Homo sapiens: one gene and its partners. The protein of the gene in region 1 interacts with the protein of each later gene in a pairwise test. Each region holds a gene or a part of one and is shown on either strand. Other genes may lie near its edges. The genes, in order: MAGEA6, NCK2, SNX4, ATPAF2, MORN3, XRCC4 and CAMTA2.

Region 1 (4,742 bases):
ACTACTAAGAATGCTGACTGCTCGCTTCAAAGAGTGAAGAATGGGCCTCACGTCACAGGAGGCAGTGGAAACTAAGGGATGGGGCCCCGGAAGGTGCACTGGCCCAAACCCCCTCCCACTGGCCCTGGCTGCAACTCGTGCTCAGACTCACTCTTCCCCCTCTCTCAAAGCCCACTCATGCAGGAGTGGGTAGGAAATGCGAGGTCCTCCACTGATCTTTACCATATGGTGCAGGACTTTCACATAGCTGGTTTCAATGAGGGCCCTTGGACCCCACAGGAACTCATAGCATGCAGGATCACTGCCGGGGACCTGCCGGTACTCCAGGTAGTTTTCCTGCACGAAATATTGGGTGAGCAGCTTCTTGGGATCCCCGAAGATACTGTCTTCCCTCCCCTCAAACACCTCTAACACACTCAGCTCCTCCCAGATTTTCTCCTCAGGGGCACAGTCGCCCTCTTTTGCGATTATGGCCAGGATGATTATCAGGAAGCCTGTCTTGGGCATGATCTGATTGTCACCCAGCAGGCCATCGTAGGAGAGGCCCAGGCAGGTGGCAAAGATGTACACGTGGCCGATGGGGTCCACTTCCATCAGCTCGATGCCAAAGACCAGCTGCAAGGAATCGGAAGCTTTGCTGAAGATCACAGGAAAGAAGTACTGCCAATTTCCGACGACACTCCCCAGCATTTCTGCCTTTGTGACCGGCTCCCTGGCTCGATACTTGAGGAGCAGAAAATGAACCAACTTGGCCACCTTCCTACTGAGTGCTGCTTGGAACTCAGACTCCAGGTCAGGGAAGGTGCTTGGCCCCTCCTCTTCTTGGTTGCTGGAGTCCTCATAGGATTGGCTCCAGAGAGGGTAGTTCATGGTAGTGGGGAGGCTGGAGGCTCCCTGAGGACTCTGGGGAGGATCTGGTGACTCGGCAGCAGGCACCTCCCCCAGGGTGACTTCAACTAGAGTAGAAGAGGAGGAGGCAGCCTCCTGCTCCTCAGTAGCAGGAGCCTGCGCACCCACCAGGCCCAGGGCCTCTCCTCGGGCCTCAAGGCCTTCTTCAGGCTTGCAGTGCTGACTCCTCTGCTCAAGAGGCATGATGACTCTGGTCAGGGCAACAGGCGGGAGTGTGGGCAGGAGCTGGGCAATGGAGACCCACTGGCCTGGGGAGAGAGGGAGCATGTGAGAGACCTCAGCTGAGTACTGAATGGAACCTTGGAGGCTCTAACAAAGGCTTACTTACAGATCTTCTCCTTCAGTGCTCCTCCGGGGGCCTCTGTTCCTCCACGTCAGCCTGTCCCCTCAGAACCTGAAGGAGGAAGTGAGAGGGCACCTCAGGGTACATCCGGCCAGCACATGCTGAGGCTGCAGGACTGAAAGTATTGAGGGTGAGGCCAGGCGCTCTGGAGTCCATGTGTTCTGGGGCAGGTGGGGCCCTTGGTTTGAATCCAAGGCAAACCTTCACCGTTGGCACTATCTGAGCCCCCTCTACTCTGTGACCTGAGGACACTGCCTCAGACCAAGTCCTCACTGCCTTGTTCCTGGAGCTCCTGATTCCTGGGAGAGGAATCCACGGGCCCCCAATGTGCAGACAGCAAACGCAGCCACGGATTCCCAGAACTGTCAGGAGGGTTGGCCAGACTCTGTGAGGTCCCCACTCTACTGGGGTGGAGGATCCCCTCTGTGCTCACTCAGGGCCCTCACCTTTCTCCTTATAGGACCTAATCCCTCCCTTCTGCTGGCCTGAGAATCTCTCATGTCAAGAACTCACATACCTGATATGGTACAGAAAAACATGAGGGGACCCACATCTGGCCATACATTCCCAGGTCCTCCCGGAAAGGACAACGAGAGATGTCCAAATTTATTGAAGTCCATGTACCCTGGGTGAGGAGACTGCTTGGTCCTCACCTCCACTCCTAGTAGGGTCTGAGAGCCTCCCTCTACTGCCCTGAGTGCAGTCCCCTCAGACCAAGGCTTCCCCTTCCCTGACATCAGTGATCCTAGGATAATGGAGGGACCTCAGCTGACAGCCCTGCCCAGGCTCTCTGAGGTAACAGCAGGAGCAGGGCAGATTTTTATGGGGCCCCCAGTCCGCATTCTGTCCCAGGGGTACCCTCAATCCTCCCTCAGTCTCTTCACCTGGATGCTTGGCAGATCCTAGGACCACTGCATCTGTCCACCACATAGGGGCCCCTTGGGGGTACACCTTGGGCCCTGCAGATCCTGGGATTCCTCCCTCTGCTGACCTGAAGTCCCACTCTTCAGACCACAGCCCTCAACTCTCTGGTCACCCTGAAGGCGCAATGAGCACAGAGCACATTTGGCCACTGTGCCCAGCATCCCCCAGCCCAAGGTTGCCACTGATCTGGACTCCAAGGTCCCCTCAGTCCTCCCTCTTCTTCCTCCCCATGACTCCTCGCAGGGCTGGGCCCCAACCCCCTGCTGAAGTGGGTCTGCATCCCTAGGATTCCCGTAGCCGAATGAAAAGGTGCCTCGGTTTGAGACAGGGGTACAGTGGGCCCCCTGTCCTGGCATGCTGGGTCCCCTCAGGACTCCACTGTCTTCCAGGAGGGCCTGGGCCCTTTCGCTGCCTCCCAACGGCCATACTCGCGATACCGAACCCCTTCCCTCCCTTAGCCGTAGATGTGAACCTCAGGACTCACGTGCCTGGCCGCCATTCCCGGAGCTTCCGTGACTTGATACCAGGGGCAAAGCCCGGATTCTGCCAGGATAGGGGTGGGGGTGGGGATGGGAATGGGGAATGGGGGATGGGGGTGGGGTTGGTGTTGGGGGACGGGAATGGTGGTGAGGGTGGTGGTTAGGCTGCCCTCAGTTCCCTCTCGGGGTCCTGACCTTGATTCCTGCCACAGCGTGGGCCCTGACCTCTTCTAACCAGCCCTGCCCTGGCCACATTAAGCTCTGTCCCCAGAGTTCCCCGTGGCTAAAGCGGCGGGGGTCGGCGGGGTGAGGTAGTGGCGACCCAGCCTGGAAGTCTTCCCCTGCGGGGTGGCCCAGGCCCGGCAGCAGAGGCAGCACTGGATTATTTGAGGCCCTCTGTCTGAGGTGAGGCCCGCCTCAGTCCTCCCTCAGCGTCTTACCTTGCCTCCTCACCGAGCCTGGGCCGGCTTCCCTCCGCCGACGTCAGGCCGTCGCTCGTTGCTCAGGGCGAGAATCTCGCGGTCTTCTGACCTCCAATGCGCAAGTCAGTGGCGTCACATCCTGGCAACGGTACTACCCTGGGTTCCGGGCAGGGGTGGAACTGGATTCTGCCTGGATGGGGATCGGATGGGGGTGGAGGTAAGCATGAAGATGGTGATGGGGCAAGGGGTAAGGATTGGGACGGGGGTCCTGAGGCTGTAGATCCTGGTGGGGTCGGGGGAGTTGGGGGTGGGTGGGCGGGGCCTTCGGTCATCCCTCAGGGTCCTGAAGTTGATGCCTGGCTGAGCCTGGACCGCCATCCTCTGCAGATTGCTTCTGCTCCCCTCAGACCAAGTCTCTGACTCTGAGTCCCCCTGAAGTGGCATTGGGGGAAGGGGTGTGGTCTGGGTGACATCACTGCCTGCGTTTACCAGGGCTGACAAGAGGGGCTGAGCTGGATTCTGTGGTCCCTCTATGGTGTGTGGGGTGGGGGGGCGGTGTGGACCCTCAGTCCTCACTCAGGAGGGTCGTTTTCGTCACCTCTGGCTGTTGGATGAAGTGATGGGCAGGAGATGCTCTGTTTCTGTCACCTGTGAGCATTTGCACAGCTGCACCCCTTGTAGAGAATGCCTGCGGGTCCCAGGCCAGGTGCTCCCTGCAGGGCGGGGCGGCAGCTCCCGCGGTTGTAGTGACCTCCTATTTCAGTCTTTGTGTTCTGTTGAAAGAATTTTTTTTTTTAAAAAATGTAATTCCTCTCCCACTATGGTGGTTTCAGGTTGTTATTAGCAGAACTCTGGAGTCATACTGCCTTAACCAACCAAATTTTCCTGGTGTCCTGCTATTACCTAGGGCTCTTGGCATCGTGTTTTCAGAGGCTGCCTCAGATTGTGCAAAGAAGTGAAGTGGAAAATTTCAAACTTTTATTCTACCCATTCTGTCATCTACCGTGTAGGCCGGCTACAAACCTCCCCAACATCCCTGCTGCTAACCCCCTCCAACCAACACTGCAAGTGTCAAACACAAGTACCAGCTCAACACAGCCTTGAGTCTCACCCTGGGCTTTCCCTGTTTTGTTGCTGATACTGGTTTTTTATTTACTGTTTCCATTCTGTAATTTTCCAGGTTTGATTTGGGAAGCAGAGCACAGCAGCCCAAATTTGTTGTAATGGCGGCGGCTACAGGTAAGGCACTAAATTGTAAATAATTTAAGCTGAGTTTACATTTTTACAGTGTTGTGCTCCCCATGAATGAATATATTATACTCCTCTATGTATTTCAAGGTTTTTTTTACCTGAATATGTCAGTATACTTCGACAGTTGTCTCTATAAAGACCTTATACATTTTTATTAGACTTCTTTTCAGGCAATTCATGAATTTTGTTGCTATTGCAAATGGCATATTGTCTATTAATTGTTGTAGTTAGTTATTGCTTTCGTGAGGTGAAGATTTTGATTTTGCTGTAGTAATCTGTTGCACACCTCGTTCTGAAGGCCGATGCACTTGAATATTCCACATACCTTTTCCTTTGAATTTTCAAGATCGATAATGGTATTATCACTAAACATTACATATTCTTCCAGTATTCATACCACTTACTCATTTTGGT
Region 2 (4,207 bases), on another chromosome or scaffold:
CATCAGTTCAAATGGCATTTGCAGGGAGACAGTCCATATTAAAACACACATACGCACCATTTTCTGCAGTTAGTCTCTTCTCCTCCCATGACAGAGAGCTGGGCCCATGCTCAGTTCCATGCAAAGCTGTAGTGGGGTAGCCCTGCCATTACTGCACAGGAGAACCCTGAACCAGTCCCAGTGGAGAGAGTCTTTAAAAACAAACTGATTATAAACTTAGTTTTGTTATCACAATTAGCAAACCATCAGTGGGTGGCCACAGATGACTTGTAGCTCAGCATGTGTGTATATGGGGAAGGGGATATTTAGATGCTGGGAGAAACAGAGAGGCAGCCCAGTCGTGCAAGCCCATGACTGCCATGCTGGGGACTTGAGTCACTGACCCAAGTACGATGGAGAGCCACCGTGTGCAGGTCATGGCCAGACCTGACTGTCAGGGTGCAGTCACCCTGGGATGGATTGGCAGGAATGGTTAAAAAGTGGTTTTGATGTCCAGGGGAAACAGAAAAAGGACAGCAGGGCTGAGATGTTAGATCTTTTGGAGGTAGAATCAATAGGGGTTGATAACTAGTTGGGAGCTGAGGGAGAATTCAAGGATAACCGAGTGAGTCGGTGATGGGGAATATAACTGAGAAGGCGGGCAGGTTGCAGGAGAAGCTGCAAATGGTTTGGGATGGTGGAAATGACCACTAAGAACTTGGATAATTCATATGAATGTGAATGAATGAGCAAACAAAGCATCAATGAACATACAGATCTGGAGCTAGAGGGAGGTCAGTCATGCAGGCATTGCCCCTGCCTTATGTCTGAACAAGGCAAAATGGCCTAGGTCAGAAACATTCCAGCCACGCTCAGGGTGCACCTCACCACCGTCATGCACATTCTGCTAAGGGATGTTTGCTCATGTGGCAAAGACTGCACGATCACAGAGATGGCAGGCTCAGAGGAGACGGCCTCTCCACCCTGGCTGCCATTGGCCCCACCTCTTGCTTTGCTCTCTTCATCCAGGGTTCAGAAAAAACTTTCCTTTGCATATCACTGATATTTTATCATGGTCTCAATTAAAGACAAACCAACCCCCAAATAAGTGTCTACCTACCTAAGTTGAAGAGAAGTTTCCATAAATGAAATCAAGTCAAGATTTTTCTCTCTCTTCAATCACTCTACTTAAAACCTTTCCAGCCTTTGGAAGGCCAGCACCAAGGCTTGTTCCCTGTTATGGGGTGCTACAACCAATATATAAAGAGCTGACGTTCCCTCCTTACTTGTGACTACTCTAACCATCCCTGGTAGGTGTCCCCAAATAAACAGAGATCCCAGATCTGGATGATGGGAGCACCAGGTCTTCCTAAAAGCATCAGCCCTGTTGTGGAACCTAGACAGACACACTGGGAGTGGCTGAATTGTCCACCCTAAATTCATATGGTAAAGCCCTAACCCCTAAGTGACTATATTTGGAGACAGGACGCTTCAGGAGGCAATTAAGGTTAAAAAAGGTCATAAATAAGGTTAAAAAAGGTCACCATAAGGGTGGGGCCCTCATCCAACAGGACAGATGTTCTTATAAGAGGAAGAAACACCAGACCTCTCTCTCAGTGCACTCACAGAAGGAAGGCTACGTGAGTGAGGACACAAGAAGACGAGCCAGGAAGAGACACTCACCAGAAACCAGCCCTGCCGGCCCCGGGGTCATGGACTTCCAGCCTCCAGAACTGTGAGAAAATAAATGTCTGCAGCTTTAGCCACCCATTCTGTTGTTGTTGTTTTGTGTGTGTGTGTGTGTGTGTGTGTGTGTGTTTGTTTGCTTTTGAGACAGGGTCTCACGCTGTCACCCAGGAGTGCAGTGGTGTGATCTTGGCTCACTGCAACCTCCGCCTCCTGGGTTCAAGCAATTCGCGTGACTCAGCCTCCCGAGTAGCTGGGATTACAGCCGTGAGCCACTGCGCCCGGCCTCTGTGTGTTATTCTCTTAAGGCAGCTGGAGCTGACTAATACACGCACTAAACAGGAATAAGCTTTCTGAACTTGAGGAGGCTTTCCAGGGTAACCCTGGCCCATAACCAGGATGTGGGGACAAGAGAGACTGACATTGCTCCTGCCGGCCTCCCCTCACACCGCTCAACCTCAGTCAACTCACATCCAGAATCTGCTCCACCAATATCTACACACAGCTGCGACACGGCAAAGGCAGATACCCAAGGACACTGTGTTCTGTAAACTGCCTCACAAAAAAACAACTCTACCCAGCAACACGTTGGTGTTCCTCATGTATGGCCTGCAGAAGGACTTAACCTAAATTCAAGCTCTGTCATCCCCAGTCTCCTACCTAGAAATGAGGGCCAGAACCAAGTGCACCATGTTATTCGACTATTAAATATGATGGTGTATGTGAAGAGGACTTTGCAAACAATGAATGAGCGTGCATGCATTAGTACATGTCATTCTCTCATCATGGCATTTTCGGTCTTCACTAACAATTTGGCAACGTAAGCACCCCAGCTTCCAAAATTGTCTCAAAAGAAGCAACTGCAATACTTAAAATTCTGAGTGCACTTGAAGCTTCTTCTCTTAAAAACATTACCAATACAACAGTAGAAAGAAGGGGTGACACAAATAACTAACTTACCAGGCCAGGATCACAAACGGTCTGCCCAGCGTTTTGAATTCAGGTTGATAGGAACAGACTAACCTACAAAAGTAAACCATTCAGCCAGCCCACCAGGTAATACAGTTGAGTATGGGGTTGGCTTTGTTTTTTTGTTGTTGTTGTTGCTGTTGTTGTTTTTAAATGTAGCTTCAGGACTACAAATGACTCACATGACAGAAAATTTGCCAAATAGAGAGGCCAACAGACCAAATTCTCCCATTGTCTGGACATCCTGAGGTCAAAGCCTTCCACAGTAGACAGAAGTTCTGAGATTTACAAGAATGCTGGAGGTCTCTTACCACTTGAATCTCAGTGGGAGGCTAGAGCCCCAATATTAACAGGCTGGGCACTCATTATTCACATATTCAATAAGTATTTGTTGCACACTCATTGTGTATAAGTGGCAAGACCAGTCTGCCCCCAAGCGGTTCAGAATCTAGTAAAGAAAAGATGAAGGCAAAAAAACCATAGGGCAGGGTATGGTGGCTCTGGCCTGTAATCCCAGTACTTTTGGAGGTCAAGGCAGGAGGCTCACTTGAGCCCAGGAGTTTGAGACCAGCCTTGGCAAAGCAGCAAGACCCTGTCTCTACAAAATAAAAATAAAAATAAAAATAAAAAAATTCACTGAGCATGGTGGTGCACACCCGTAGTCCCAGCTACTCGGAGGCTGAGGTGGGAAGATTGCCTGAGGTGGGAAGATTGCCTGAACCCAGAAGCTCGAGGATGCAGTGAGCTGTGATCATGCTACTGTACTCCAGCCTGGGTGACAGGGTGAAACCCTGCCTTAAAAAAAGAAAAAAAACAACTGCAGGAAAGAATGTCACAGATGACAAATCAGGGACACAAAGAAAGTGCTGTGGAAGTTTAAAGATGATGCCATCCCCTCTAGTTTGGAGTTGATAAGATGTGGGGAAGAAAAGAAGTAAGAGACGACCCTTGGGATGAGTAAGAACTCAGGACACGGAGGAGACTGAGCCAAGGAGTTGAGAGGGAACACAGAGGCTGGTCAGGGACAGTGACACCGTATGACATCACTGTGACACTGCTACCTCAATCAAAATAACTTTCATTTCCACAGTTTCAAGGACTAAGATTCTTGAGGTAGGAATGTATGTGCCAGTACACATGTGGATGTGTGTCACTGGGCAGAGGTAATACTTGCTAACGTTCATTTACCTTTAGAAATAAACATACTTTGGGAAATGTTCAAAGGAAAATGCAGGAAAAGAAAAGAGTCTAATTTTTTAATTGTGCTACTAAATGGCCTAAAGAAATGCAAAACTGTTTTTGCTTTAGCTGCACACTTTTGATAGCCCGTTAAAAGGCCGTCACGACCTTCTTCTGAGTTGCCTTAACTCAGGCATGGAACAAGATACACGAAATCACATTTTAGCTTAGGCCCTTTGAAAACGTGCCGTGAAGTATTTCCATCACTCATTTTAGGAAACAGAAACCATTTGGAAGTGCCACTCGCAAACCCTCTGGATGGGAAAACTAATTTCCTAAGCATCTGAAGTGAGCTGTAGGGAGTTTCCAGTTCATTTGTGAAAAAAGTTAGCTT
Region 3 (4,207 bases), on another chromosome or scaffold:
AAAGAAGAAAACTTTGAGGTATTATCTTTTCTAAGAATACTCAGTTGCTATGTGAGATTACAGCATTAGTTCTTACATTATGTAAGAACTAATTATGTATGTAGTTCATTATGTATGTAATTATGTATACATATGTATACATTATGTATGTAGTTCTCACATACATTAAAAAATGTTTTATGTATGTGATAATGGCATGTTTATTGAAAGAAATGTTCCAAGTATATGGAAAACAACTTTTTTTGTGTTAAGAATATATGACGTTTTTGGCCGGGTACAGGTGGCTCATGCCTGTAATCCCAGTACTTTGGGAGGCCGAAGTGGGTGGGTCACCTCAGGTCAGCAGTTTGAGACCAGCCTGGCCAATATGGAGAATTCCCATCTCTACTAAAAATACAAAATTAGCTGGGTGTGGTGGCGCATGCCTGTAATCCCATCTACTAGGGAAGCTGAGGCAGGAGAATCATTTGAACCCGGGAGGCGGAGGTTGCAGTGAGCCGAGATCGCGCCATTGCACTCCAGCCTGGGCAACAAGAGCAAAACTCTGTCTCAAAAAAAAAAAAAAAAAAAAAAGAATATATGAAGTTTTTATGGTTAGGTTCTGCTAGATTCCATTAGATTCCATTTTTAATGTTGGGCTACTACATTTTAAACTTGAAAATTCTGGGCACACACATTCTGCCCTAGCGAGACATTGTGAATGGTTCTCCTCTACCCTTGAAAAAAATGTTTGACATGTTAAAGGAAAAGTTAAATGGCAGCACATTTTTTCATCTGTAGGGCTGTGTGCAGGAAACATGAACTTATGCAGTATGACTTGGAGATGGCTGCTCAGGACTTAGCATCCAAGAAGCAGCAGTGTGAGGAACTGGTAACTGGGGTGAGTATTTTCCTTTTGGCCTCTGATGATACTGTAGCAACACGGAATGTTCCTCACAAGCACTCACTCTGAGTGAGTAACTCACTCCTGTAGAATCAGTTCCAGTTACAATACTCAGGACGGCTGAACCTTTTACAGGGGAATAATTTGTGAGTAACTTTATAATTCTTTTATTATTATCTTGATACAAAATGATGTAAGCCATTAAAACCATGTACTGTATAGAATTATAAGAAATTTTGCCAACATTTCTCTGGTGTAATCAGTATCATCCGGTTTCGTTTTAAAAAAAAAAAAAATTATTGGGCTGGGCACGGTGGCTCACACCTGTAATCCCAGCACTTTGGGAGGCCAAGGCCAGTGGATCACCTGAGGTCAGGAGTTCGAGATTAGCCTGGCCAACATGGTGAAACCCGATCTCTACTAGAAATACAAAAATTAGCCAGGTGTGGTGCCTCACGCCTGTAGTCCCAGCTACTCGGGAAGGTGAGGCAGAAGAATTGCTTGAACCAGGGAATCGGAGGTTGCAGTGACCCGAGGTCACGCCACTGCACTCCAGCCTGGGTGACAGAGCAAGACTCCATCTCAAAAAAATTGTTTTTATTAATTTTTATTTTTTGAGACAAGGTCTGGTTCTGTTTCCCAGGCTGGAGTGCAGTGGTATGATCAGGGCTCATGGAAGCCTCAAACTCCTGGGATCAAGTGGTCTTCCTGCCTCAGCCTCTTGAGTAGTTGGGACCACAGGCATGTGCCCCCATGCCTGGCTAATTTTGTTTATAGTCTCATCATGTTGACCAGGGTGGTCTCAAACTCCTGGACTCAAGTGATCCTCCCACCTCCGCCTCCCAAAGTGCTAGGATTACAGGGGTAAGCCACCATGCCTAGTCTATCATCTGGTTTCTAAGTCCAAGTGAAAAAACATGCAGTGACCTTTATCAGGTTTAACTTTGCAAGGTACTTTGCAGAAATTTTAGTTGACTTTGAAAAGCCTTACCCACTTAGAACCAGTGCATCTCGCCTAACAGGGAGCTTTTGATGTACTTTATTCTTTAATGCTTACAGTGAGTACTTGTGAGGAAAATTCTGTACCTGATTGCATTAGTCTTGGATCATTTTTATAATCAGCTTTCTACTCCAGTTATTTCATTGCAATAAATCAGCCATCATGGTGAGCAACACACATTCTGAAAGTAGTAAACCAGCAGCAATGTCTCTACTTAGTTAATAAGCACTGTAGTTTTTGTTTGTTTGTTTGTTTGTTTTTAGACCGAGTTTCGCTCTGTTGCCCAGGTTAGAGTGTGGCTCACTGCAAGCTCCACCTCCTGGGTTCACACCATTCTCCTGCCTCAGCCTCCTGAATAGCTGGGACTACAGGCGCCTGCCACCACGCCCGACCAATTTTTTTTTTGCACTTTTAGTACAGACGGGGTTTCACCATGTTAGCCAAGATGGTCTGAATCTCCTGACCTCGTGATCCGCCCGCCTCGGCCACCCAAAGTGCTGGGATTATAGGCATGAGCCAGCGCGCCTGGCCAAGCACTATAGTTTTAAAAGTGCTTTTCACAGAGATTACCCACTGGCTACATCTGTGAAAAGTCACAGATATATGTGGGGAAAGACTTGTGACCAGGACACATGTATAAACTAGGCCCTTGGTTTATTTTTAAAACTCAGTGGGAGAAGTTCCCAGGCCATTTTCAGGGAGCTTGGTTCTCTATCCTACATGTCAAGGGAAAAGTGTTTTCTTCAGTAAACTCCAGAGAGTGAGGAAATGTTAAAGCAGTGAAGCTTGGGGTTGCCTTCCCATGCTTGGATTTAGGTATCCTGTTTTATTAATAGATGCCCAAGTTTGAGCGTTGAGTTATGCAGATTTTAAATATGCTTCTTTAGTTTGGTTTATTTCCATAGTTGCCTAGTGAATTTATCGACTTTTTTTATAACATAAAGTAATTTTTAAAATATCATTCATACAGAGTAAGAAATAACGTCTAATATTTCACGTGGAAGTTTTCCATTTGATTATGAAATTCAAGCCGGGTATGGTAGCTTACAATGGCAATCCCGACACCTTTAGCAGCAGAGGCGTAAACCCAGAATTGCTTGAGCCCAGGAATTTGAGACCAGTGTGGATTAATATAGCTAGACCCTGTCTTTACCAAAAATTTAAAAATTAGCTGGGTGTGGTGGCATGCACCTGTGGTCCCAGCCACTTGGGAGGCAGAGGTGGGAGGATCACTTGAGCCCAGGAGGTTGAGGCTGCAGTGAGCCATGATTGTGCCATTACATTCTAGCCTGGGCAACAGAGCAAGACCCCATTTCAAAAAAAAAAAGAAATTCAGTTAGAAGTGTCTTCTTTTTGACTACTCCATATTATTTCAGTGTTAGAAATTCTATTAGGATTCTTGGCTATGACTCTGTAAAAATAAATAAAAACTCATATAAGAGATCCCTGGTTGTGAAGCTTATGGTGGTTTTGTCTGACTTAGGGGAAATATGGCAAATGTTTTCTATTTCCTTTGTGTGTGTAGTGAAATATATATAACATAAAATGTACCATCTTGTCCATTTTTAAGTATATAGTTCAGTAGTGCAGTCATCCCTCAGTATCTTCAGTGAGATTGGTTTAAGGATCCCTGGGATACCAAAATCCTCAGATGCTTAAGTCCCTTCTATAAAATGGTGTAGTATTTGCATGTAACCTGTGCATATCCTTTTGTATACTTTAAATCAGCAGTCGCCAACCTTTTTGGCACTAGGGACCTGTTTTGTGGAAGACAGTTTTTCCATGGACCAGGGCAGGGGGTGCTGAGGATGATTTCGGGATGAAACTGTTTCATTTCAGATCATCTCAGGCATTAGATTTTCACAAGGAACACACAACCTGGATCCCTCACATGCGCAGTTCACAATAGGGTTCGTGCTCCTAAGAGAATCTAATGCCTCTGCTGCTGATCTGACAGGAGGCAGAGCTCAGGTGGTCGCTTGCCTCCTGCTATGCAGCCTGGTTCCAAACAGGCCATGGACTGGTATCACTCCGTGGCTCTGGGGTTGGGGACCCCCTGCTTTAAATTATCTCTAGATTATTAATACCTAATACAGTGTAAACACTGGTGTCTCATATAAGTGGAATCATACAGTATTTGTCTTTTTGTATCTGTCTTATTTCACTTAGCATAATGTCCTGCAGGTTTATCCATGTTGTAGCATATATCAGATTTGATTCCTTTTAAAGGCTGAATAATGTTCCATTGTATGTGTATGTGTATGCCGCATTTTGTTTATCCATTCATCTGTTTCTGTTTCCTTTTAGACTGTGAGAACATTCTC
Region 4 (3,031 bases), on another chromosome or scaffold:
GATGACTGAGAACCCGTTTGTGCTCCTTCATCAGCTGAGCCTTCATACCCTGACATTTTATCTGGCTGGCAGAGGAGCATAGGGGTAGCTGCTGTTTGTATACAAGTTTTGATTTAGTGGGCTCAGAATTAAGGTTTTGCCACAGTATGGTTTGCATTTTTTAACTCTGAAAATTATAGCCATCTTTGCAGTCTTTTTATTGTTATTCCACCAACCTCAGAAGGTTAATTGCTATTATGAATTGGTCCCTAATATGGTAAAAACAAACAAACAAAAAAACACAAAACTTTTTGTGATGTATTTCCCTAGTTCTTGTAGTCTTCTGCTCAGAAAAATGCCAGGGAAAAAACTATTTTTGTATAACAAAGGAGGCCCGCTACTATTCTCTGGATGTCAGAACTGATTACATAGGAAGGGGGTGACTTGTAGGGCTGGTGGGAAGCCAGTCTGGGCTCTGCTTCTGACTATGGGACCCAAGCCAGGCCATCATTCTCTGAACTTTGGTTTCGATCCTCTACAAACAGAGGAATAACCTGAATTATGTATGTGATGGTATACAATGAAAGTATGGAATACTCTTCAGATGACATATTACAATTGTACAGTTTGGGACCAGGCAGCCCAGAAGTTCAAATAGCTTGTGTAGCATGGTGGATTCTGAGTTCCTGGATGAGCTGGGGCGGCCAGGCCAGGCCTCTTGGGCAACTAGCCAGGGAGGAGCCAGCAAGGTTTGGTTGGACTTACACTGTCTGGACAGCCACATCGTGTGTCTGAGCGTTCCTCCCTCTTGTTTTTAGAGCTCCAGACAGAGAATCTGCAACTTGTCCCCAGTGTGCAGAGCAGAGGCATCTGTAGTTCTGTGACTACCACAAGAGTCAGAGTTGAAGCCACTGCGTGGCCTTACTTGATTTAGTTATTCCACCCACATGGCGCTGGGGGGCACTTGTAGCCCAGCATGGCAAGGCAACTTGGAGAGGCTGTCCATTCACAGGCTTTCTGGGAGGAAGTGTAGGAGAAGGGATGGCACATAAGGCCTCCTCAAAGAAGTCACATGGGTGGTTCTGGTACCCAGCCTGCCCAGTGGTGGGTGGGCAGCCACTGGCCCTGGGCCTGGGCCTGGACTGCACTTCTTCCAGACCATCCATGCCACAGAGAGCACAGGTGCCTGCTCCGGCTCCCTGGGGGTGGGGTGGTGGGGTGTGTGTGTGTGTGTGTGTGTGTGTGTGTGTGTGTGTGGTGTTTTTGAGACAGGGTCTTGCTCTGTTGCCCAAGTGGGAGTGCAGCGGTGTGATCTTGGCTTACTGCAGCTTCAGCCTCCTGGGCTCAAAGCAGTCCTCCTACCTCAGTCTCTCAAATAGCTGGGACTACAGGTGCACCCCCACCACACCCAGCTAATTTTTAAACCTTTTTGTAGAGGCGAGGTTGCACCATATTTGCCCAGGCTGGTCTTGAACTCCTGGATTCAAGCAGTCTTCCTGCCTCGGTCTCCCAGAGTGCTGGGATTACAGGCGTGAGCCACCGTGTCTGGCGTACCTGGGTGTTCTTACCTGCCACCTCCCCCTAGGCATGTCTCATGTGTTTTGGCAAGATACAAACCTGTTGCCCTCAGCCAACCTATTGGAATGGAACGTGGCTTTGGTCAGGAGGCAGCCAGGCACTGGCCACTCACCCAGCAACTTGTCTTGTCCTTCCCTCAGATCCAGAAGTGGGGCAACATTGAGTGGGCCCATGACTATGAGCTGCAGGAGCTGCGGGCCCGCACCGCCGCCGGCACCCTCTTCATCCATCTCTGCTCCGAGAGCACCACAGTCAAGCACAAGCTCCTGAAGGAGTGAGGCCTGGGCAGAGCACACTCAGCAGGATAGAGGCAGTGCAGCCACAGCTCCCCCGGCCTTCAGGGCTCCCCAGCCTGTGGGGCTGGCTTCCTTGGCTTTTGGGGACTCGGCCTCAGCGTCACCCTGAGATTCCCCCCGAGACACAGTGCGCTAGTACGGCTGTCCGGAGGTCAGCCTGATTTCAACCCAGGTGCCCCTGGCCTGGCCAGCAGTGAATGTAGGAGATGAATTGTGCAAGTGACTTTCTCTCGACTCTGATTTTATTAAATATTTCTCCACCCTGGAAATGTGCTGAGCCCTGTTTTCACGTATGCCTCTGCACTTCTCCATTCTTCCTGTTTTGTCTAGGTTCCAGAGGGTTAAACAGCTTATCTCCCATGGCGTGTTTGGATATCTGCTGCCTGTGGTCAGGAACCTTGCACTGGGGAAACAATCATGTAATCCACAGACAACTCTATTTGTGTTCTTCAGCCTCAGCCTGAAGGCTTTTTTTTGGCTGGCTTTTAATCAAACAATCTTTTGAAACAATTGTGGTCTAAGCTGGTTGTTTCTATTTGTTCCTACTGTTCTAAAACAAATGATTTACTCTAGAAAGTAGAAAATAGAAGTTGTTTCTGGGCTAAAAGCCTGGACAGGCTTGACAAGGTCACCTGATGTGCATGTTTCCGCTCATCTCCCACCCAGGAGTCCTAAGGGTCCTCCTGACATAGCCACCTCTAGTGTCCCAGGAGGCAGGCGCTACTTTCTGGTGTCAGGCCAGTAAGAGGGCAGGGGGGAAGAGTGGTTCTCAGGCAGACAGGCTCTCTCAGCCCTGTGTCCTTGCCAGCCTGAGTAAGGTAATGGCATCAACCCTGCTCACAGGGCACTGATCGCATGCTGGGTGCCTCTCCACGCTTCCCATGCACTGTCTCCCTGAACTGTTCCTCGAAGGCACTGTGAGGTACTGTCACAGATGACACCAGGGCTGCGGGGGTGACATGGTGGAGCTGGGATGCCCTGCCTGCACTCTGCTCTTCTGGAGGGTCCTCAGGTCCTTGTGGCTAACCTCAGCCTTGGTGGGCAGGCCCAGGCCCCAGCACTGTGGTGGGAGCTGCAGCCTCTCCTCCTGCTTCCCTGCCCCTCAGCACCCAGAGCAGAGAAGGTCTTAGCCCACACCGGCCTCCTTTTGCCTGTGGCTGGCAGCCTGCCTAGGCATG
Region 5 (4,207 bases), on another chromosome or scaffold:
GATCTGTGCATTGTTCTGGGCCCTGGAGCAGCCTCAGCCACATCAGAACTTGGCAGGTGTGCCCACCCCTCACCTGGCATCAATCTCCTTCCTCTGTCTTCCTGAACATGGCCAAGGCCTCCGCCAGCACACCATCAGGGTCTAGGATTTTGACCTGGAGGGAAATACCAAGAAGTTGGTTTGGAGAGCATGGAGGACCCAGGCTGCCAGCCTTGACTGGCGCTGCCTGCCGTGTGGGGTGCTGCCAGCCTCATCAGGAGCCACCTCCCTTGCTAGGGATGCCCTGACTGAAAACAAAACCTTGTCTGTTCCCTGTCTGGGCTTGGCTGGGCCTGGCAGATCTGGCCTGGGCATGGCTGGGGATGCTGGCTTCTGTCTCTGTCTGGGTGTGGCCACAGGGCCCTGGTGAGGGCTGCCCACCTCAGGAATGGGGAACTGAGTGGGCTCAGGGGCCTCGTCACGGCCAAAGTCGATCATCGTCCCGCATTTGGCCATATTGTCCACCCAGAAGCCTTCAAACAGCTGGCCGTGGTCCAGATGGAAGAAACGCCCCGCCCCGTTCTTCATGCCTCTCTCCCAGCAGCCCTCGTAGCGGTTCCCGTTCTCTGGGGGAAAGGACAGGGAGGTGTGGTGCAGGGTACACCAAACTAAGCTAGACCCCCAGGGGTCGCTCTTCCAGAGCTCAGTGCAAATCCTAACACATTGGGAGGCCAAGATGGGAGGCTCATAAGCCCAGGAGATCAAGACCAGCCTGAGCAACATAGTGAGACCACATCTCTGCAAAAAAAAAAATTTTTTTAATTAGCTGGGCATAGTGGTGTGCACCTATAGTCCCAGCTACTCTGGAGGCTGAGGTGGGAGGATGGCTTGAGCTCAAGAAGTTGAGGCTGCAGTGAGCTGAGATTGCCCCACAGCACTCCAGCCTGAGTGACAACCTCCGCCTCCCGAGTTCAAGTGATTCTCCTGCCTCAGCCTCCTGAGTAGCTGGGATTACAGGTGTATACCACCACATGCAGCTACTTTTTGTATTTTTAGTAGAGACAGGGTTTCTCCACGTTGGCCAGGCTGATCTCAAACTCCTGACCTCATGATCCGCCCGCCTCTGCCTCCCAAAGTGCTGGGATTACAGGCATGAGCCACTGCGCCTGGCTTTTTTTTTAAAAATTGAGATATAAGTTCATATAACATAAGTTGGCCATTTTGAAGTGTATAGTTCAGTGGCATTTAGTACATTCACAATGCTGTGCAACCATTACCTCTATCTAGTTTCAAAACGTTTTAATCACCCGAAAAGGAAACCCTGTGCCCATTAAGCAGCCATTCCCCACACCCACTAATGTCACCACCCCCATAGTCCTAGGCAACCATTAGTCTACTTTCTGTCTCTGTGGAGGTGCGTGTCCTAAAAATTTCATATAAATAGCATCATATATATGTGACCTTTTGTGACTGAGGGGAGAGATAGGGTGCTCTTCCTCTCTTGTCCCACATTGACACAAGGGTCAGTGTGGGACAAGAGTGTGGGGTGTGGCCTGTCTCTGTGGGACCAAATGGGCGTGGCCAGCTCGCTGCCGGGGGCGTGGTCGGGTGGGCGGGGCCGGCGGGGGTGGGGCACTCACTCAGGCGCAGCATGCCCTCCCCGTTGGGCTTGTCGTTCTCCCACTGTCCCTCGTAGATGTCGCCGTTGCTGTAATACATGCGGCCCCACCCGCTGCGCTGGCTGCCACACCAGTCACCCTCATAATACTCCTTGGGTCCGAAAAACTGGATCCCATAACCCTGAAAGTACGAAGATGCTACTACTCAGGGCGCCCCCCAACACCACCAGGAAAGCCCACCGTCTTCCCAGGCACCCCTAGAGCCACACACCCCAGCTTCTTCCTTCTTCCTCAGCCCTACGTCCAAGCGGAGGGTCGTGTCTTAGCGGAGTATCCTGTCTTTTTTGTTTGTTTGTTTGTTTTTAGACAGAGATCCACTCTGTCACCCAGGCTGGAGTGCAGTGATGTGATCTCGGCTCACTGTAACCTCCGTCCCCCGGGTTCAAGTGATTCTCCTGCCTCAGCCTCCCGAGAAGCTGGGATTACAAACACGCATCACCACGCCCTGCTAATTTTTGTATTTTTAGGAGAGACAGGGTTTCACCATGTTGGCCAGGCTGGTCTTGAACTCCTGACTTCAAGTGATCCGCCCGCCTCAGCCTCCCAAAGTGCTGGGATTACAGGTGTGAGCCATAGTGCCCACCGATAATGTCTTGAAGGATCTCCCCATGCTCTGTTTCTCTCTGTCCCTCTGCTGGCGCCTCCATGCAGCCAGTCATTAAACTCCCTCCTTACTGACCCACCCTCTCCTCTCTCATCCCCACCACACCATGCGCCATGCAGCCCCTACAGCGCCGGAGGACTCTTTAAATCGCCCATCTAGGCTGGGCGCTGTGGCTCACCGGCTCACTTTAGGAGGCTGAGGTGGGTGGATCACTTGAGGTCAGGAGTTTGAGACCAGCCTGGCCAACATGGTGAAACCCCATCTCTACCAAAAATACAAAAAATTAGCTGGGCGTGATGGCGGCGCCTGTGATCCCAGTTACTGGGGAGGCTGAGGCAGGAGAATCACTTGAACCTGGGAGATGGAGGTTGCAGTGAGCTGAGAATGCACGGTAGCCTAGGTGACAGGGTGAGACGCTATCTCAAAAAAAAAAAAAATCGCCCATCTGATCATGCTCGCCCCCCTCCCACTCTTATTTTGACCCAGAAAAATGAACATAAACACCATACTTAGCCTGGCGTGGTGGCTTACGCCTATAATCCCAGCACTTTGGGAGGCCGAGGCAGATGGATCACCTGAGGTCAGGAGTTTTAGACCAGCCTGACCAACGTGGCAAAACCCTGTCTCTATTAAAAATATAAAAAATTAGCTGAGTGTGGTGGTGGGCACCTGTAATACTAGCTACTTGGGAGGCTGAGGCAGAAGAATTGCTTGAACCCAGGAGTCGGAGGTTGCAGTGAGCCCAGATCGTGCCATTGCACTCCCACCTGGGCAACAGAGCAAGACTGTCTCAAAAAACAAACAAACAAACAAACAAAAAACACCACACTTAGGCTGGGCGCTGTGGCTCACGCTTGTAATCCCAGCACTTTGGGAGGCCAAGGCAGGCGGATCACAAGGTCAGGAGATCGAGACCATCCTGGCTAACATGGTGAAAACCCGTCTCTACTAAAAATACAAAAAAATTAGCTGGGTGTGGTGGTGGGTGCCCGTAGTCCCAGCTACTCGGGAGGCTGAGGCAGGAGAAGGCCGTGAACCAGGAGGCGGAGCTTGCAGTGAGCCAAGATCGCGCCACTGTACTCCAGCCTGGGCAACAGAGAAAGACTCCGTCTCAAAAAACAAAAAACACCACACTTAGTGTCCAACCACAGGGAAACAAGGTCTGTTTGCAGATCACACCCGAGGAGGTTGGGTTGAGAAGCCAAGTCTACTCCTCAAAATCCTGATTTCCCACATATCCCTGAGGGCCCCCGCAACTCTTCTCCTCACTCCTGTCCCAGGGCAGACACACTCTGCTGTTTTACATCTCGTTCCCTTTGCTATTTTTTTGCCTCCCATCTTTCTCCCTTTTTTTTCTTCCTGGCTAACTCCTAGCATCTTTTAGTGTCACCTCCTACAGGAAGCCTGCCCTGAATTCCCTCTTTTTGAGACAAGTCTTGCTCTGTTGTCCAGGCTGGAGTGTAGTGGCACCACCATAGCTCACTATAACCTCAGCCTCCTGAGATCAAGCAATCCTCCTGCCTCAGCCTTTTGAAAAGTTGGGACTACAGATGTGCACCACAACATCTAGCTAATTATTATTATTATATAGTTTTATTTATTTATTTATTTATTTTGAGATGGAGTCTCACTCTGTTGCCCAGGCTGAAGTGCAGTGGCGTGATCTCGGTTCACTGCCACCTCTGCCTCCTGGCTTCAAGCGATTCTAATGTCTCCGTCTCCCTAGCTGGGACTACAGGTACACACCACTATGCCCGGCTAATTTTTTTTGTGTTTTTTATTTAGTAGAGACGGGGGTTTCACCATGTTGGCCAGGCTAGTCTCGAACTCCTGACCTCAAGTGATACACCCCTGTCTGCCTCCCAAATTGCTGGGATTACAGGCGTGAGCCATTGTGCTTAGCCTTCTGTCCTGAATTCTCTAGGCTGGGCTTGATGACCTTCCT
Region 6 (4,927 bases), on another chromosome or scaffold:
AGTCCCAGCTACTCGGGAGGCTGAGGCAGGAGAATTGCTTGAACCCAGGAAGCAGAGGTTGCAGTGAGCTGAGATTATGCCACTGCACTCCAGCCTGGGCAACAGAGGGAGACTCCATCTCAAAAAAAAAAAAAATCATTAAAATACAGTAATTCAGGTTTATTAAGTCATTACCATTGGGTTACCTCACAAATAAACTAAGTTTAGATGCGAACTCAAAGATACTGAGACACTAATCCATTTCTTAAGCTGCTAAGTTAGCCTTCTTGAAACCTCACTTCGTAGCTCTGCAAACAATGTACTTTTGACATCCCAAGCTCACAGGAATAAAAAACCACCTGCCAGTTGTTTCCGTTTTCCACCTATGTCTAATTTATGTACTTATATTTATAAGAAACAAATCACTAAGTCTTATTTCATCCTTAGTTATGTTGTGTTTCTATCGATAACAGCATGAAGATTTCGGGGACCTGGACATTAAAATAAGTTTGAGTACTGGCTTTACAATCTACTAGGTGTGATCCGAGGCAAGTCAGTCTCTTCATGTTTCACTTCTTTCACTTGTAAACATCTATTCAGAAGTTGCTGTGAACTTGATATTTCCATGCTTATAAACTGATTTTTTGAAAAGAGCCTGGTACATAGGACGTGATAATAAATGAAAGCATTTGCTACTTTTGGAAAAACAAGCATGACAAGATAGTTTATATACTGTTGATCTTAAGCACAGTATATGCATCTTATTTTTAGCTAGTCTGACAGTGAGATAATAAAAAGAGTTATCTTTGACTTGCACTACGAGTAGAAGAATTCAACTTCAGTTTCTAGAAAGATGTATAAGAATTAAGAGTGGCAGTCTTCCTAGTCTCAACTGCCATCTTCCCACCAGGTGGTAAATTCGTCCAGAGAAGAAAATGAATTATTGCTATATGGGATTCTGCAGCAACTTCTGTGAACATAGGCTCATAATTTTTCACCATGGAGACTCAAGCTTTTTGGAGTCATAGTTGTTTTTGGGTCTATTTGCAGGCATGCATCCTTTGTCCAGAAATATACATAACATTTGGCACATGGACCTGGAGGTAAAAGAGGAGGAAGGCCTGAGGCTAGACACCACTCCAATAAGTACATTAAGCTCCTAGAAGGGCAATCCACCTTTGCAGAGAACTCTTAACTATTAAAACCTATAGCTTGTAAAGCAGCATTTTCAAAGTTAAGAGAAGAAGGTGGAAGGGTCTTGAGAGGCTACTGACTAAACAGATGAAAATGAAGGTATGGAGTTTGGTGCCAAAAGAAACTCCCCCCAAAAATCAAACAATAACACCAGAGTAAAGCCCCTAGGGCGAGATAAGGAGTTGCAACAAAACAAGCGGAAACTCGAGAAGCGCTAATGCTTCAAAGGGTCAATGACCACACATAATCTACGTAGCCAACGTGTTAAAACACACCAACGCATTTTTTTTTCCTAAACAAAGTAGGAAAGCGGACTTTGCATGAGGGGCGGGCTGCCGACCCAGCAGTCTTCCTCGGACAGTCCGTCCTGATTCTCTCTGGTTGGCCGTGGAGGGACCACATGGCTCCAAGGCCTCTCAGCTCCGGGCCCACACACCCCGGGCTGCCGCACAAACTCCAGCCCTAGTCTAGATCCACAACCCCTTCTCGAAGATCAACCGCGACCTGGGAGCCCCACTTCTTACCATAGCGAGGCCGGCGATGCCGCAGCCACATCACCCTTCCGGGGCTCAGGCGGAAGAGGCTGCATGTCCCGTCTGCCCTTCTCGCCCTCTCCAGCCGTCCGGTTGGGCTTGTCACGGCACCGCCTACCAAGACGGGCGGTTAAGACACTAGGATAGGCTCCTCTCCACCGGAAAAGGCGGGATTTAGATCACGTCCCGCAGGCCGGCGGAAGTAGCTGATACTCTCATTGGTTGCAAAACCTTGATCTGTGAAAGCGGGCGTTTTGGAAGATACCGGAAGTAGAGTCACGGAGAGGTAGGATCCGGAAGTGGGGCTGCCTCTTTAAATAACAAAAATCTGAGGTTCTGTTCTTTTTATCTTTTTGCTTTCTTTTTAAAAAAGTTCCCTGCTACTTACCCCTAGAACTCCACAATGCGAGAATCCCCCTCAATTTGTGAGCTCCCGCGACTTCCTCTTGTGGGCTTTTGGGGATGCTAGGGTTCTCGGCATTATCCTCAGGGTGCGACCTGTTCACCCCCTTTTCAGTTTCTCCGTTTGCATCTGAGGGATTCTTGGGAATGCGAAGCACTTTTGAAATGCTCTGTGTTGGTTGTGGGATTGGGAGGACGGTTGAATCCAGAGGGTAGTGTTGAGTAGGCTGTTTGAGCATTTCCCCAGCACTGGCCTGTCCTTTCAATCCCCAGATATTGGTAAACTGTGGGTTCCAACCAGGCATCGAGGCTGAAACGTACTAGGCAATTTGAGGTCAGGAAAGAACTTTCTGTGGTAACCAATGGGAAGGAACTGCCGTTTGCGGACTGCAGCGATTGATTAGGTACTTTAAAGAGATCAACTGGCAAGACAAATGACAAGGCAACTTTTAATCAGTAGTAGTATTTAGCTTTTTCTGATTTTAATTATCCCATTAGGTGAGGTTCTACTACACACACACGTTTTTCTTTCTGCATTTTATCGATGGAGAAACAGGCGCTTTGACATGTTTGAATTTGCGTAGTTCTTGGAATTCTAATAAAGTATTAGAAATGAGAGTTTTTCACTCTTTGCCCCCTTATGGCAAGCTTTTGGTTCTAAATGTGTGGTGTATTTTTTCTCAGGCAGGAGAGAGTTCTTTTCAGAATGTTTTCAATTTTTTATGGACTTAGAAGGTGGATAGAGAGAAAGAGAGAAGGTAACTCACGTGAGATTTTGGTTTATGAACTGTATTCGGCCTATGAGACCCTTTTGTATTTAGGGCAACACAATGATTAGAAGATTTGGGATTCTGCTATTTGTGTTTACATTGTTCACTAGGGCACACAAAGGTTTTGTTTTAAACTATAACTAACTTGATATTTGAGTCTGTTATATTGAATTGTCAAGAGTTGGTCAAATACACAAATTAGCAAGTATTTACTGGGTGCCTGCTTTATTCATGGATCTTCAGATTGCAGCATAGGAACAAAGATGGTCTGTTCCTTTAAGGAATTTAATAAGGTTGGGGGAGAGGGGAATAAGAAAGGTATTTAAAAGATACAGTACTCTCCACCTAAGGATAAAAAAAGTCTTTTAATGTTCTGTCTTGTAATTCCTTTATATTATACCTTTTAGGTCTTGCCATTCAAATTAAACAAACCTGGTTTAGTTATGGAAATTATGTTGTGCAATTTATCGAGCTTGGCTTTTAGGGCAGTAAATGTGTCTGTAGACATAACTGCCCTTGGTTTCATGTGAAGATTGTCTTGATCTTTGTTACATATAAAGGTAATACTTCTGTATGAAGCTCTGCTTCAGGCTACCTGTGAAAAGCATCAGAAAGCTTAACTTGTTAGAGATCACAATTGATTTGCTATATCTATATATTTTAATTAATTTTAGGCTATGACTTCTTATGTACCTGAGCTTCAAAACAGTAAAGAACGGCATTGCCAGTTTTTAAGTTATCTATAGAGAAACACATATGCCAATAAATGAGGCTGAACAAATATGTATAATGTTTATTGCATTTATGTAAAACATCAAAGTTAATCTGACGTGGTGAGTTTTTTTTGGGAGGTGGTAGTTTAGCTCCATTGTCTTACATAAACCCCCTACTTTTTGGTTTTCAGATTATATCACAATTTCTAAAATCTTTCTGGCAGCTTTGCAGTGAATCCTCATTTAAAACCATCTTGGATCCTTTCCTTACTAGAAATAAAATCTGTCTGTGTTATTCCTTTGTTCAAAAATTATTATTTATTTTTATTTTTGAGACAGGATCTTGCTCTGTTGCCCAGGGTGGAGTGCAGTGGCACAATCATGACTCACTGCAGCCTCAACCTCCAGGGCAGAAGCGATCTATCCTCCTCCCTCAGTATCCCCAGTAACCGGGACCATGGTTGCATGCCACCATACTTGGCTAATTTTATTTTATTTTTTGTAGAGACAGGGCTCACTATGTTGCCTAGGCTGGTCTCAAACTCCTGGGCTCAAGTGATCCTCCCGCCTCGGCCTCCCAAAGTGCTGGGATTACAGGTGTAGGCCACCGCACCACGTCTGGCCTGTTCAAAAAGTATTATCTCACCTGCATCTGGAAGAATATTTCCAACTTTGGTTTCATGGGTATATTAAAATCGTATGTAAAAATAGTGGATATTTGTAGTTTTCTGTGGCGCCAGTGCACAGGTGTCCTCAGTGTTATGAGGATTACATGAGTTATTACAAGTAAATCATCTAGGCAAATGTTTGGCATACAGTAAGCACTCAGAAAGTGTTGGCTATTACTGTGCATGGCTTTGTCTTTGCTAAATTAAAAGTCCCTGGAGAGGAGGAATTATAATGGAGGAATGGTTGAATTGCATATATTAGGCACTAAATACAGTAGTCCCTCCTTATCTGAGGTTTTGATTTCTGCAGTTTCAGTTACCCATGATCAACCACAGTCTGAAAATATTAAGTAGAAAATTCCAGCCGGGTGCGGTGGCTCATGCCTGTAATTCCAGCACTTTGGGAGACCAAGGCGGGCAGATCACTTGAGGTCAGGAGTTTGAGACCAGCCTGGCCAACATGGTGAAACCCCATCTCTACTAATATACAAAAATTAGCCAGGCGTGGTGGCATGTGCCTGTAGTCCCAGCTAGTCAGGAGGCTGAGGCAGGAGAATCAATTGAACCCGGGAGGTGGAGGCTGCAGTGAGCCGAGATTGTGCCACTGTACTCCTGCGTGGGCAACAGAGCGAGACTCCATCTCAAAAAAAAAAAAAAAAATTCCAGAA
Region 7 (4,207 bases), on another chromosome or scaffold:
AGTTGAAGATATTTGTTATTCAGCAAGAAGGTTTGGAAACTGAGGGTCAAGAGACTAGTTATGAACAATTTGATGTTGGAAAATCCTCTTGATCCCCGGATCAGAGTCTGGAAGTTATGACCCTGTTACTGAGATGGAGGAAAGGGGAGCTAGCCGCTCATGAACAGTGTCCAGTGGCCATAAGCATGGAACCAGCAGGCCCTGATCCTAAGACCAGGTGCTGAGACTTTTTCTCCCAGTCCCCAGATTCTCTGGTCTCATCCCCTTTCCTTACACACATGCTGGATGCTGCTGTAGAGACTGGGGGAGAACACACTCGTAGACAGCAAAGCTGCCAACCTGTCACTTTGGTGGTCCTTGAGGTCCCCTAGTAAGGCTGATTTTTGAGTGTAGGGTAAGGGCAAAGCTGGTGGCAAAAGGGCAGAGATGAACCTTGGCAATGAAGTCTAGACCAGTGCTGTCCAATAGAACATTTCTGCAGTGACAAGAATGTTCTATATCGTCACTATCCAATAGGGTAACACGAGCCATGTGTGGCTACTGAACACTTGAAACATGGTCAGTGAGACTGGGGAAGTGAATTTTAAGTATTCTTTAACTTTAATTAATAGGCACATGTGGCTAATGGCTACCATACTGGACAGCACAGTTCTAAAAGCCAATGTCCTTCAGTCCCAAGACTGGTTAGAGGAAACCCACATTTCTTCTTTCTCATTCCCCCTGGATTGGAGTTGGAGACTCTGGCTCTAAGCCAGAAAGCCTGGACAGACATTAGAAATCCCTTTGGTCAATGCCTAACCTTACAGGAGAGGAGGCCAAGGACCTCAGGAAGGATCAGACTCATCTGAGGTCACTGGTTAGCTAAGGAGTAGACTTCTTGGACCAGAACCTCGATCTTCTGACACCTAAGTCTGGGCTCTTCTGCCTGCTGGGAGAGCTTGGGGCTCAACCTCAGGACTGGATGAAGTCCTTGTGCTCTCAAAACAACCCATTTGTTCCCAGTGCTTTCTGGAAGCCTGGAGGTCCTGATCTGTCCTAACTGCCCACATGTCAGTCCCTCCCCCTACGGTTCCCAATCCTCATACCGGGACAGTAGCAGCGTAAGACACCAGGCTGGACAAGTGAGGCTGGCACTGCGATGTGATCAAAGACACAGGAGTAATGCTCGGCGGCTTCGGTCCAAGGACCTGTGATGAGCACCTTGACCCCACCCTGCAGACAGAAGTCAGAGACCATGTGACTGGAGTTGGGCGTTCATCCCCTCACTCATTCATTTATTCAGACCCTTACAGGGTATCTACTATATGGCAGGTCCTGTGCTAGAGTCTGGGGGTCCAGGGATAGACAGGACCCAGTGGGGTGAGGTCAGTGAGTCTATCTCTCCCCAACATTCCTGCCAAGTGGTTGCCTGGTCTCTACCTGAATCTGCCAGTAGCTGGGAATTCAGGGCCTCCCCCAAAGCTACCACAGAGCTGTCACCAGAAGGAAGTTCTGTTCTTGGGCTAATTCACCCCCACTGTACTTCCTCCTTTTCCTCTCAAAGGCAGCATAAAACAGAACTTCTCCACTGCTGAAGACAGTCTTTCAGCTACTCAAAGTCTGCAATCACATCCCTGATGTTTCTTTTCTTCTCCAGGCTGCACAGCCCCAATTCCCTACCCCTGAAAACAGTCAGGAAGGGAATGAGGTCCTAGGAGACTCCAGAAACCATGCTAACACATGGAAGGGAGAGGAACAGAAAAAAGGTTAAGTTGCTGAGGACTCTGGAAACAGGAAAGCAGCTTCACTCTACATAAAAAAAGAGATTGGCGGCTGGGCACGGTGGCTCACACCTGTAATCCCAGCACTTTGGGAGGCCGAGGCAGGCAATCACCTGAGGTCAGAAGTTTGAGACCATCCTGGCCAACATGGTGAAACCCCATCTCTACTAAAAATACAAAAATTAGCCGGGCGTGGTGGCGGTCACCTGTAATCCCAGCTACTCAGGAGGCTGAGGCAGGAGAATCGTTTGAACCCGGGAGGCGGAGGTTGCAGTGAGCCAAGATTGTGCCATTGCACTCCAGCCTGGGCAACAAGAGCGAAACTGTCTCAAAAAAAAAAAAAAAAAAAAAGAGAGAGATTAGGTAGAGGACTAAGAAGCCTAAGAAGCCATGAAAACTGAGGGAAACTAGGTCACAGACCACGGGGTAAGAGTTAATACAATTTGTTTTGGGGAGTCAGAAGACAAATAGGAGGGAGGAGGGAGGAGGTAAGCCTGAGTCTCACCTCTGGGTAGGACCACTCTGGGGAGAAGTCTGTGATGGTGCTAAGAGCAGGAGACAGCTGGGGGGTCGGAGCAGGGATGCTTGGAGCTTCGTCACTGATGAGTTCTCCCATAAGGTCTGGGAATGATGAAAGACTGAAGGGCTCCAGTTCACTGGCCCCAACAGGTCCTCCAAACAAGGCCTCTCCTCTTCCTACCCTGCTTGACGGCTCCAAGGGGGCAGGTGAGGGTGGGGGTGAGGGAGGGGGTGAAGGTATGGGTGGGGCAGCCCCGTGACCCTTGAGCTCCTCCCCACTGTCATCATCTTGGATGAAGAAGCAGTTTCCTCTTCTCCCACCTGCTACTGACTGTGGTGGGGGACCCCGAGCAGCTGCCTGGGGCTCCAGGGCAGCAGCAGGCTCTAGGGCAGAACAGGGGGTATGAGCGGCCTCTGCCTCGGGGAAGTCTGGGCTTACTCCCTGCCCCCCTCCATATGTCTGGCCCCTCTGGGGGCTGTTGAGAAAACGATCAGGGTCAAAGGCAGGACTGGGAGGAGCTGGTGGGGCAGAAGGCTCAGTGCCTACAACCACTGCCAAACTCATGGAAGGCCTAGGATCAGCCTGTGGAGCCAAGTGCCTGGTGGGCGTCAAGCCTCCAGCCCGCTGCTCCAGTCCTGTCAGGAGGAGGATAGCAGTGCCTCCTCTTGAAGAACCCCCTCGAGAAGTGGGAGGGCTAGGTCTGATTTCTAGGGGCTCTGCAAAACCTGATGAGGAGGAAGAAGAGGAAGAAGATGGGGAGGTGTGTGCCTTGGGGAGCTCTGGGGGAAGTGGGGCTATCAGTGGAGGAGGCTCTGGGGGGTGAGCGTGGGGGATAGAGGTCAGGGTTAAAGCTCGGGGCTCCACTTTGGGAGAGATGATGCGGTGTTTCGTGCTGCTGCATTTGTGGGTAAGGCTCCCAGAACCTGGAGTGGAGAGGAGTAGGAGGGAGAGGAGATAAGACACATCATTCCGCACCTTCTCTACCTTGAGGCCCTTAAAAGTATTTCCTGGGACGTCCCTATAAACCAGAGGTGTAATACTGATTGTAGCCACTGGGAGGCATCAGAAATGTCTGTTCTCTACCCCTACCCTTTATTCCCCCTCCCCCTCTCCATTTCCCCTCAAAACAAGCAGGACCAGAGGAACGCTCCAGAGAACTGAGGGCTTGGGAGAGTAGCTAAAAGCAAAAGTTAAAGGCATAGGAAAAGGACAAAAGAACAGAACCAAGGGGGTGCCAACTAGGAGGAAGGCTAAGGCTGGGTGTCACTGGTGGTGCTGAGGGGACAGGAATTGCTGAAGGTAGAAGACAGGAAGGGCAGAGGCTGCCATGACAGCTGAGTGCAAGGCTGATTCCGAGCCAGTGTGCACCCAGATGGGAACGTCTGTTCATCTGGCCCATCTTTCTGGGACATGCAAAAGACTTGCAAATCAGCATGCAAATCCCATCAAGATGGATATCCCCCTGGCTTGCGTAAGAGCAGTGTGGCTAGGTGGGAAGACAGCCAAAAGGTCAGGGAGTAACTTACCAAGCCCCCCACTGCAGAGACAGGCGTGGGTTCGGGGAGCAGGCTTGGTTGGGTGGGTGTCCAAAATCTGCTGCACCAGGTGTTCTACAGAGAACTCTTCTGTTCCATTCCCGCAGCTCCACTTGATGCCATGAACTAGAGAAGTTAGGGGGAAGTGCTGTGGGATCCCCACGAAACAGGCCCCAGAGTACCTTGATGGCTCCTCCAAGCACCTGACATGCTTCAAGACTTCTGGCCAGGTGAACAGAGGCCAGCAGCCTCAAGACTGCTCAGATATGTTGCTTTAGTCCTTTCTCCGTATTCTAATACCTGAGAACACACCGGGAATCCTAGCACCCTCCCAGCTTGGAGGGAGATGATCAGCCCTCAGGCTTTGGGTCCAGAACCATGGCCCCTCTGGG

The links.
Region 2: the proteins of MAGEA6 (region 1) and NCK2 interact in binary tests that used the Homo sapiens proteins (3 or more experiments, as listed by UniProt).
Region 3: the proteins of MAGEA6 (region 1) and SNX4 interact in binary tests that used the Homo sapiens proteins (3 or more experiments, as listed by UniProt).
Region 4: the proteins of MAGEA6 (region 1) and ATPAF2 interact in binary tests that used the Homo sapiens proteins (3 or more experiments, as listed by UniProt).
Region 5: the proteins of MAGEA6 (region 1) and MORN3 interact in binary tests that used the Homo sapiens proteins (3 or more experiments, as listed by UniProt).
Region 6: the proteins of MAGEA6 (region 1) and XRCC4 interact in binary tests that used the Homo sapiens proteins (3 or more experiments, as listed by UniProt).
Region 7: the proteins of MAGEA6 (region 1) and CAMTA2 interact in binary tests that used the Homo sapiens proteins (3 or more experiments, as listed by UniProt).

The regions. Positions count from the first base shown.
Region 1 is NC_000023.11:152,766,559-152,771,300, forward strand, and holds the start of MAGEA6 (melanoma-associated antigen 6), read right to left. Parts: upstream 3,132-4,742; 5' UTR 3,096-3,131; intron 1,368-3,095; exon of another isoform or gene 1,304-1,367; 5' UTR 1,238-1,303; intron 1,158-1,237; 5' UTR 1,093-1,157; coding exon 148-1,092; 3' UTR 1-147. UniProt on the Homo sapiens protein: Activator of ubiquitin ligase activity of RING-type zinc finger-containing E3 ubiquitin-protein ligases that acts as a repressor of autophagy. May enhance ubiquitin ligase activity of TRIM28 and stimulate p53/TP53 ubiquitination by TRIM28.
Region 2 is NC_000002.12:105,747,628-105,751,834, reverse strand, and holds part of NCK2 (cytoplasmic protein NCK2), read right to left. Parts: intron 1-4,207. UniProt on the Homo sapiens protein: Adapter protein which associates with tyrosine-phosphorylated growth factor receptors or their cellular substrates. Maintains low levels of EIF2S1 phosphorylation by promoting its dephosphorylation by PP1.
Region 3 is NC_000003.12:125,453,939-125,458,145, reverse strand, and holds part of SNX4 (sorting nexin-4), read left to right. Parts: intron 1-780; coding exon 781-880; intron 881-4,190; coding exon 4,191-4,207. UniProt on the Homo sapiens protein: Involved in the regulation of endocytosis and in several stages of intracellular trafficking. Plays a role in recycling endocytosed transferrin receptor and prevent its degradation.
Region 4 is NC_000017.11:18,017,353-18,020,383, reverse strand, and holds the end of ATPAF2 (ATP synthase mitochondrial F1 complex assembly factor 2), read left to right. Parts: intron 1-1,697; coding exon 1,698-1,835; 3' UTR 1,836-2,363; downstream 2,364-3,031. UniProt on the Homo sapiens protein: Plays a role in the assembly of the F1 component of the mitochondrial ATP synthase (ATPase).
Region 5 is NC_000012.12:121,652,655-121,656,861, forward strand, and holds part of MORN3 (MORN repeat-containing protein 3), read right to left. Parts: intron 1,780-4,207; coding exon 1,620-1,779; intron 606-1,619; coding exon 421-605; intron 155-420; coding exon 80-154; 3' UTR 74-79; intron 1-73. UniProt on the Homo sapiens protein: Assembles a suppression complex (suppresome) by tethering SIRT1 and MDM2 to regulate composite modifications of p53/TP53.
Region 6 is NC_000005.10:83,075,624-83,080,550, forward strand, and holds the start of XRCC4 (DNA repair protein XRCC4), read left to right. Parts: upstream 1-1,923; 5' UTR 1,924-1,992; exon of another isoform or gene 1,993-2,039; intron 2,040-4,927. Other genes in the region: TMEM167A (protein kish-A precursor), read right to left, coding at 1,698-1,700.
Region 7 is NC_000017.11:4,977,419-4,981,625, forward strand, and holds part of CAMTA2 (calmodulin-binding transcription activator 2), read right to left. Parts: intron 3,942-4,207; coding exon 3,807-3,941; intron 3,204-3,806; coding exon 2,266-3,203; intron 1,213-2,265; coding exon 1,086-1,212; intron 1-1,085. UniProt on the Homo sapiens protein: Transcription activator. May act as tumor suppressor.